2 linked regions of the Homo sapiens genome follow. The protein of the gene in region 2 purifies or fractionates together with the protein of the main gene of each other region. This does not show direct contact. Each region holds a gene or a part of one and is shown on either strand. Other genes may lie near its edges.

Region 1 (4,016 bases), about 150 Mb from region 2:
AATCTAGAAATCCATGAGCATGCTCAGGGCAGAATACATACCCAGAAAAAACCTGGGAAGATCATAAGCTTTTACCTCTGGCTGGTCTTCAGGCTCTGTGCAAGCAGCAAATGAAGGCTAAGGTAAAATTGTAAATTGCCTGGCTAAGTGTTGAAGCCATATCCAAACACTGAGTCAACCTACAAAGATCTGAAGAGTATTTTTTTCTTTTCTTTTTTTCCTTTGGATACCATAATATTCAAAATACCCAGTTTTCAACAAAACAAAATATGAAACATGCAAAGAAACAAGAAACTCATTCTCATTCTCACAATAAAAAAAATTAACAGAAACTGTCCATGCTACAGCACAAACACTGGACTTATCAAAGACTTTAAATCAACTGTCTTAAATATGTCCAAAGAGCAAAAAGAAACCAGTGCAAATAACTAAGAAAAAGGAGAAACACAATGTCTCAACACATAAATAGTTTAAAAATATATTATCATAAGGATCCAAACAAAAACACTAGATCTGAAAAGTACAATAACTGAAATAAAAAAATCACTACAGGGTTTTTAACAGCAGATCTGAGCAGAGAGAGAAAAGAATCAGCAAACTTGAAGATATGTCAAATGAAACTGTCCATTTTGAGGCACAGAAAGAAAACAGAATGAAGAAAAATAAACAGAACCTAAGAGACTTATGGAACACCATCTAGTATACCAACATATGCATAATGAGGGTATGAAAGGAGAGGAAGAAAGAAACATAGAGAATACTGGGAGAAAAAACAGTCAAAAACTTCCCAAATTAGACCAAAGACAAACTTACACATCCAAGAAGCTCAATGAAATTCAAAGATAAACTCAAACAGATCCACAATAAGACACTCTATACTGACGCTCTATTTAAAAAAATAAATAAAAGATTTTGAATTAATAACCTAATTTTACACCTTAAGGGGCTAGAAAAAGAAGAGCAAACAAAACCCCAAGCTAGCAGAAGGAAATAATAAAAAGCAGCAACAGAGACTAGAAAAAGAATAGAGAAAATGAAACCAAAGGTTAGTTCTTTGAAAAGATCAACAAACATTTTTGGAAAACTTTTAGTTAGACTGACTAAAAAAGAAAAGAAGAGACTCAAATTACTAAAATCAGAAATGAAAGTGGGACATTACTGCTGCTCTTTTGATGATTAAAAAATTACAAGAGAATAATATGAACACCAACAAATTGGATAACCTACATGAAAAAGAATAATTCCTAGAAACACACAAACTACCAAAACTGACTCAAAAGACACAGAAAATCTGAACAGAATTAGAAGTAAGGTGATTGAATCAGTAATCATAAACCTTTCAACAAGTCCAGTACCAGATGGCTTCACTGGTGAATTCTACCAAGCATTTAAAGACAAATTAACATAAATACCCCTCAAACTCTTCCAAAAGATATAACAGTAGAGGAAACACTTCCTAATTCATTCCATGAGGCCACCATTACCCTGATACCAAAGCAAGACAAAGACACTACAGGAAAACCTTTAGACCAATACCCTTTATGAATGTCGATGTGAAAATCCTCAAAATACTAGCAAACAGAATACAGGAGTATATTAAAAGGACCACGCAACATGGCCACATGGGCATTTCAATACAATACACCACATTAATGGAATGAAGAAAAAAAGTACATGATTATCTCAATCGATGCAGAAAAAAGCATCTGACAAAACCCAACATCTTTTCATGATAAAAGTACTTGATAAATTAGGAATAGAAGAAAAGTCCCTTAACATAATAAAGGGCATATATGAAAAATCTACAGCCAATATCATACTCAATGGTGAAAGAATGAAAGCTTTCCCCCTAAGATCAGGAACAAGACAAGAATGTTTATCCACTTTCCTGACTTCTATTCAACATAGTACTGGAAATTCTAGCCAGAGCAATGAGGCATGGGAAAAAAAAATAAAAAGGCATCCAGATTGAAAAAGAAGAAGTAAAATTATTTCTATCTGCAGAAGACATAATCTTATATATAGAAAATTCTAAAAATGGCACAAAAAACTGGCTAGAGCTAATAAATTCAGCAAAGTTGGAGAATAGATCAGAACACACCAAAAAAATCCACTGTTTTTCTACATATTGGAGCTGAAAAATATGAAAAGGAAATTTAGAAAACTTCATTTCCAATAGCATCAAAAAGAATAAAATACTCAGGAGTAAACGTAACCAAGGAACAACTGTATACTGAAAACAAAAAGTTGCTGAAAGAAATTAATATGAACTAAATGAAAAGAAATCACATGTTCATGGACTGAAGGACTTAATATTGTTAAGATGGCAATATTCCCCAAAGTGATCTATAGATTCATTATATTCCCAAAGTTTCAATAGCTTTTTTTGCAGAAATGAAAAAGCCAACCCTAAAATTCAAATGGAAATATAAGGAACCCTAAATAGCTGAAACAACCTTGAAAAAGAACAACAAAGTTGGAGGACTCACACTTCTGGATTTCAAAACTCACTACAAAGCTTCAGTAATCAAAACAGTGAGGTACTAGCACACGGACAGATAGATCAATGAAATATAATTGAGAGTGCAGGAATAAACCCCAACATTTTTGGTCATTTAATTTTCAAAAAAATTGCCCAAACCATTCATGGAGGAAAAGAACAGTCAATTGTTCTTTTCTGACATTTGTTCTGACAAATGATGTCAGAACAACTAGATAGTCACATATAAAAGAATGAAGATGGACCCTTGCCATATACCATAGACAATAACTAACTCGAGATGGATCAAGGATATTAAATGTAAAAGCTAAAACTGTAAAACTCTTAGAAGAAAACAGAGGGACAAACCTTCATGACCTTGGATTTAGCAGTGGTTTCTTAAATAACGATGCCAAAAGCATGAGCAACAAAAGAATAAATTAGACTTCACCAAAATTAAAAATGTTTGCATATGAAAGTTTTACATACCAAGATAGTGCAAAGAAAACCCACAGAATGGGACAAAGTATCTGTAAATCATGTATCTGACAAGGTTCTATTACAAAGAACTCCTTTTCCCAAAGAATAAAGACAAATGGCCAAGAAGCACATGAAAAGCTCAATGTCATTAGTAATTAGGGAAAGGCAAATCAATACCAAAATAAGATACCATTTGATATCCACTAGTATAGTAATAATTACAGAACAGAAAATAACAGGTGTTAGTGAGGATACGGAAAACTGAATTCTTATACATTGCTGGTGGGAATGTAAAATGGTGCAGTCACTAGGGAAAACACTTTAGTGGTTCCTCAATGAATTAAACATAGAATTACCATATGGTCTGGCAATTCCAGGCCTAGGTATACACCAAAAGATACAAAACAAGTGTTCAAACAAAAACTTGTACAGTAATGTTCACAGCAGCTTTATTCCCAATAGCCAATAGGTAGAAACAACCCAAATGTCCACCACCAGATGAGCAATAAACAAACAAAATGTGGTATATCCATAAAATGGAATACTGAATTAGTCAATTTTATGTTGCTATAACACAATACCTGAGACTAGGTAATTTATAAGGAAAAGGGGTTTATTTAGCTTACAGTTCCGCAGGCTGGGAAGTTCAAGGGCATGACTCTGGCTTCCAGTGAGGGCTTTTGTGCTTCATTATAACACAGTGGACAAGATCAAAGGGGAAGTGAGAAAAGAGAATACCCAAGGGTCTTCCTGGCTTTATAACAACCAACTCTAGAGGGAACTAATCCATTCCCAAGAGAGCTAATCCAGTCTCACTAGAGCAAGAATTCACTCACTCCAGCAAGAACAGCACCAAGCCATTCATGAGGGATCCACCCCCAAAACTGAAACACCTCCCAGGCTCCAGCTCCCAACACTGCCACAATGGGGGACCAAGTTTTAACATGAGCTTTGGTGGAAACGAACTATATCCAAACCACAGCAAATATTATGCAGCTATATAAAGGAATGAAGTACTGATACATGCTACCACACAGATGGACCTTGATATACCATG
Region 2 (3,600 bases):
TGCACTGGCAACCTGGGCTTGCTTTCTGCTTCTGCAATGTGCCACAGGACCTCCGCACAGCCCAGACCGGCGTCCTCCTCCTCCTCCCTTCCCTTCACCTTGTTAACCACTCAGCCATCATATTTCAGCTCCAGTCAATCTCAGGATGCCTGCCCTACACCCTGGGCTGAGTGAGGTTCCTTTTTTAGATGTTCCATAGGCTGGGTGCAGTGATTCGTGCTAGTAATCCCAGCACTTTTGGAGGCCGAGGTGAGAGGATCGTTTGAGTCCAGAAATTGGAGACCAGCCTGGGCAACAAAATGAGATCCCATCTCTACAAAAAATTAGCCACTCGGGAGGCTGAGTTAGGAGGATCGCTTGAGACCTCCTGAGGTTGAGGCAGCAGTGAGCTATGATTGCACTCCAGCCTCAGTGACAGGGCAAGACCCTGTCTCAAAAAAAGATATGTTGCATGGAACTGATTATTCAGCTTGTAATTACATTTTCGTTTTCGGGATTTTGTTTGTGGGATTTTGTTTCCTGTGTCTGTCTCTCCAGCTAGATCATGCAGGAGGGCTGTCTCCCTAACATCTGTCACGGTGCCTGACATGTAGCCGACACTCAGTGTTTCAGTGCAAGGAAGAGCCCAGCGCCCAGAGGTGTGACGGAGGTGCTCTTTTGGCTGGGGAACTTGCACTGAGCCAGGAGGGATAGGCCAGGCAGCCTTCCATCCAAAAGACTTGTTTTTGTTTGTTTGTTTGTTTTAGATGGAATTTTGCTCTTGTTGCCCAGGCTGGAGTGCAATGATGCAATCTCAGCTCACTGCAACCTCTGCCTCCCGGGTTCAAGTGATTCTCCCGCCTTAGCCTCCTGAGTAGCTGGGATTACAGGTGCCCACCACCAGAGACGCGGGTTTCACCATGTTAGCCAGGCTGGTCTCGAACTCCTGATGTCAGGTGATCCACCCGCCTTGGCCTCCCAAAGTGCTGGGATTACAGACGTGAGCCACCGCGCCCGGCCCAAAAGACTTGCTCCCAAAGTGTTTGTTTTACAATCTCGGGTCTTAGAAATAACACGGGTGGCATGAGAGGAAGCTGTCCAGGGGCTGTGGGTGGTGGGCAGCCTTTCCCTGAGCCAGTACGGGGACGTGGATAAGGGGCAACAGGTCCTTGCCGCTTTTCCTAGGTCCCTGGCCCGTGCCTGAGGCCTGGGATCTCTGTAGCCCCGAGGTGGAGTCAAGCCTGGGGCCCCGGGCCCCAGTCTTAGCCGCAGCCTCGGGCAAGCTGCGTAACATCTCTGAACTGGGACTGTGCGGATTCGAGAAGGCAGCGGACGCGAAAGGAGCCCAGCCAGGGCTGGCGCTTCCCGCAAGCGGCCGCGCGTGGCTGCGGGGATCACTCGGGCGAAGCTCGCGGGCCAGGCGGGGCGTTCCCGGGGCCGCTCTTGTGACGCCACGGGCGTTGCCCAGCAACCGCGAACGCCGCGGCGGTGAGCTTGCGGGCAGGCGGCTGGGGCGGCTCCGGGCTCGGGTTCTGCGGCGGCGCCTGCAGCGCGGATCCCCCACGTCCCCGCTCGGGCCGGGCCTCAGAAACGGGCGAGCCCGGGCGCGGGAGGAAGCGGCGGCCCCGGCTCGGGTCCTGCGACGCCCAGCTCCCCTCCGGGGCGCCCCCCGAGGGGTCCCCGCCCCCCGCCGCGGCCCCGCCCCTGCCTCAAGGCCCCGCCCCCCGTGGCCGGCGCTGGCCCCGCCCCTTGGCCCGGGCTGCTGGGAGTCCCCGGCGGGGCGGGGGTCAGCTCTGGTCCCGTTGGTCCTGGGCGCGGCGCCATGGCCTCCGAGGCGGTGAAGGTTGTCGTGCGCTGCCGTCCCATGAACCAGCGGGAGCGAGAGCTGCGCTGCCAGCCCGTGGTGACTGTGGACTGCGCGCGCGCCCAGTGCTGCATCCAGAACCCGGGCGCCGCCGACGAGCCGCCCAAGCAGTTCACCTTCGACGGCGCCTACCACGTGGACCACGTCACCGAGCAGATCTACAACGAGATCGCCTATCCGCTGGTGGAGGTGAGGGCGCCCGGCAGGCCGCCCTGCAGGCGGCAGGGCATGAGGCCGCCCCGAGAGTCCCCAGGGGGCTGCGCTGCCCCCCAGCCAGGAGGAAAGGCCCTCGAGGGGCGCAGGCGGACGGGAACAGGTAGGTCCGGAGGCTTTTGTCCAGGCGGGACACAACCAGAGCCTGCCTCTAATGTCGCCTCCGGGTCTGCACTATCCCCAGCGTCTCCGCCTCCCGGGTTCAAGCGATTCTCCTGCCTCAGCCTCCCAAGTAGCTGGGATTACAGGTGCCTGCCACCACGCCCGTCTAATTTTTGTGTTTTTAGTACAGATGGGGTTTCACCATGTTGGCCAGGCTGGTCTCGAACTCCTGACCTCAAGTGATCCGCCCGCCAAGTGCTGGGATCACAGGCATGAGGCACCGCGTCCGGCCGAATGGTGACTTTTTATCTTCCCTCACTGGCAAGATGGGGCACACCTAGCCCTGTTTTGGTTACAGCATGGGTCTTTGCAGTGGAACCGGGCATAGATGCCATGTGGGCCCTTGGGGTCTCAGAACAATTCTCTGGGCCAATCTACCCATACAGGATCCACCCCAAGCCCACACTAAGGTCTAGAATTTGCAAGCTCATGAGCTCTGCAAGGGCAGGAACTGTGTCTGCCTCGTTCACCACTTTGTCCGTAGGCTGAGCATAGTCCCTGTCGAATGAATAGAAACAGCGATGAATGAAGAATGACTTTGGGAATGACTTTGGGAACAGCACCGGGTTTGCCTCCTCTCTTCCTTCCAGGCCTCATCTTCCACCCCTCCCCTAGTCCCTCCTGCTCTCCACACCTCATCTGTGTGGCTTTACTCAAGCTGACCCCTCAGCCTGGAATGCCTTCCTCTTCCTGTCACCTGGCAAAGTACGAGCCCCACTCCCAGCTCCCCCAGTTCTCCCTGTCTTTGCCGCCTGGAAAGCTGTGCTTCGTTCTTCCTGTGCCATCCTGTTTTCGCTTCTTTGTACTCCCTGTCCCTGCCGGCTGGCTGCCTGGACTCTTGTCGCTGTGTGCCCCGCCCCATAGCCCGCCACGAGAATCACCTGTACGTGTCCAGCTCCCTGCATTGCAGGCAGACATTGGGCCATCACCTGTGTATGGCAGTGCTTCCTGTGCCCATGCACGAAAGAAGCCCTGTATGCACCCTGTGAGAGCCCCGCAGGTGCTGCTCTTACCCTTTAAGATATTGATTTTTTTTTTTTTTTTTTTTGAGACGGAGTCTCGCGCTGTCGCCCAGGCTGGGGTGCAGTGGCACGACCTCGGCTCACTGCAATCTCCTGGGTTCAATAAATTCTCCTGCCTCAGCCTCCCGAGTAGCTGGGACTGCAGGAGCTCACCACCACACCCGGCTAATTTTTCGTATTTTTAGTAGAGACAGGGTTTCACCGTGTTGCCAAGGCTGGTTTTGAACTCCTGACCTCAGGTAATCTGCCCACCTCAGCCTTCCAAAGTGCTGGGATTACAGGCATGAGCCACCCCGCCTGGCCCAAGGTGTTTTTCTTATCATCTTATCAATTTGCCTCAGTAAGGCCAGCCCAAGGGCA

The links.
Region 1: the proteins of KIF17 (region 2) and KIFAP3 purify together in Homo sapiens (co-immunoprecipitation; one large-scale study listed by IntAct). This does not show direct contact.

The regions. Positions count from the first base shown.
Region 1 is NC_000001.11:170,067,892-170,071,907, forward strand, and holds part of KIFAP3 (kinesin-associated protein 3), read right to left. Parts: intron 1,027-4,016; exon of another isoform or gene 1-1,026. UniProt on the Homo sapiens protein: Involved in tethering the chromosomes to the spindle pole and in chromosome movement. Binds to the tail domain of the KIF3A/KIF3B heterodimer to form a heterotrimeric KIF3 complex and may regulate the membrane binding of this complex.
Region 2 is NC_000001.11:20,715,908-20,719,507, reverse strand, and holds the start of KIF17 (kinesin-like protein KIF17), read left to right. Parts: upstream 1-1,500; 5' UTR 1,501-1,801; coding exon 1,802-2,032; exon of another isoform or gene 2,033-2,159; intron 2,160-3,600. UniProt on the Homo sapiens protein: Dendrite-specific motor protein which, in association with the Apba1-containing complex (LIN-10-LIN-2-LIN-7 complex), transports vesicles containing N-methyl-D-aspartate (NMDA) receptor subunit NR2B along microtubules.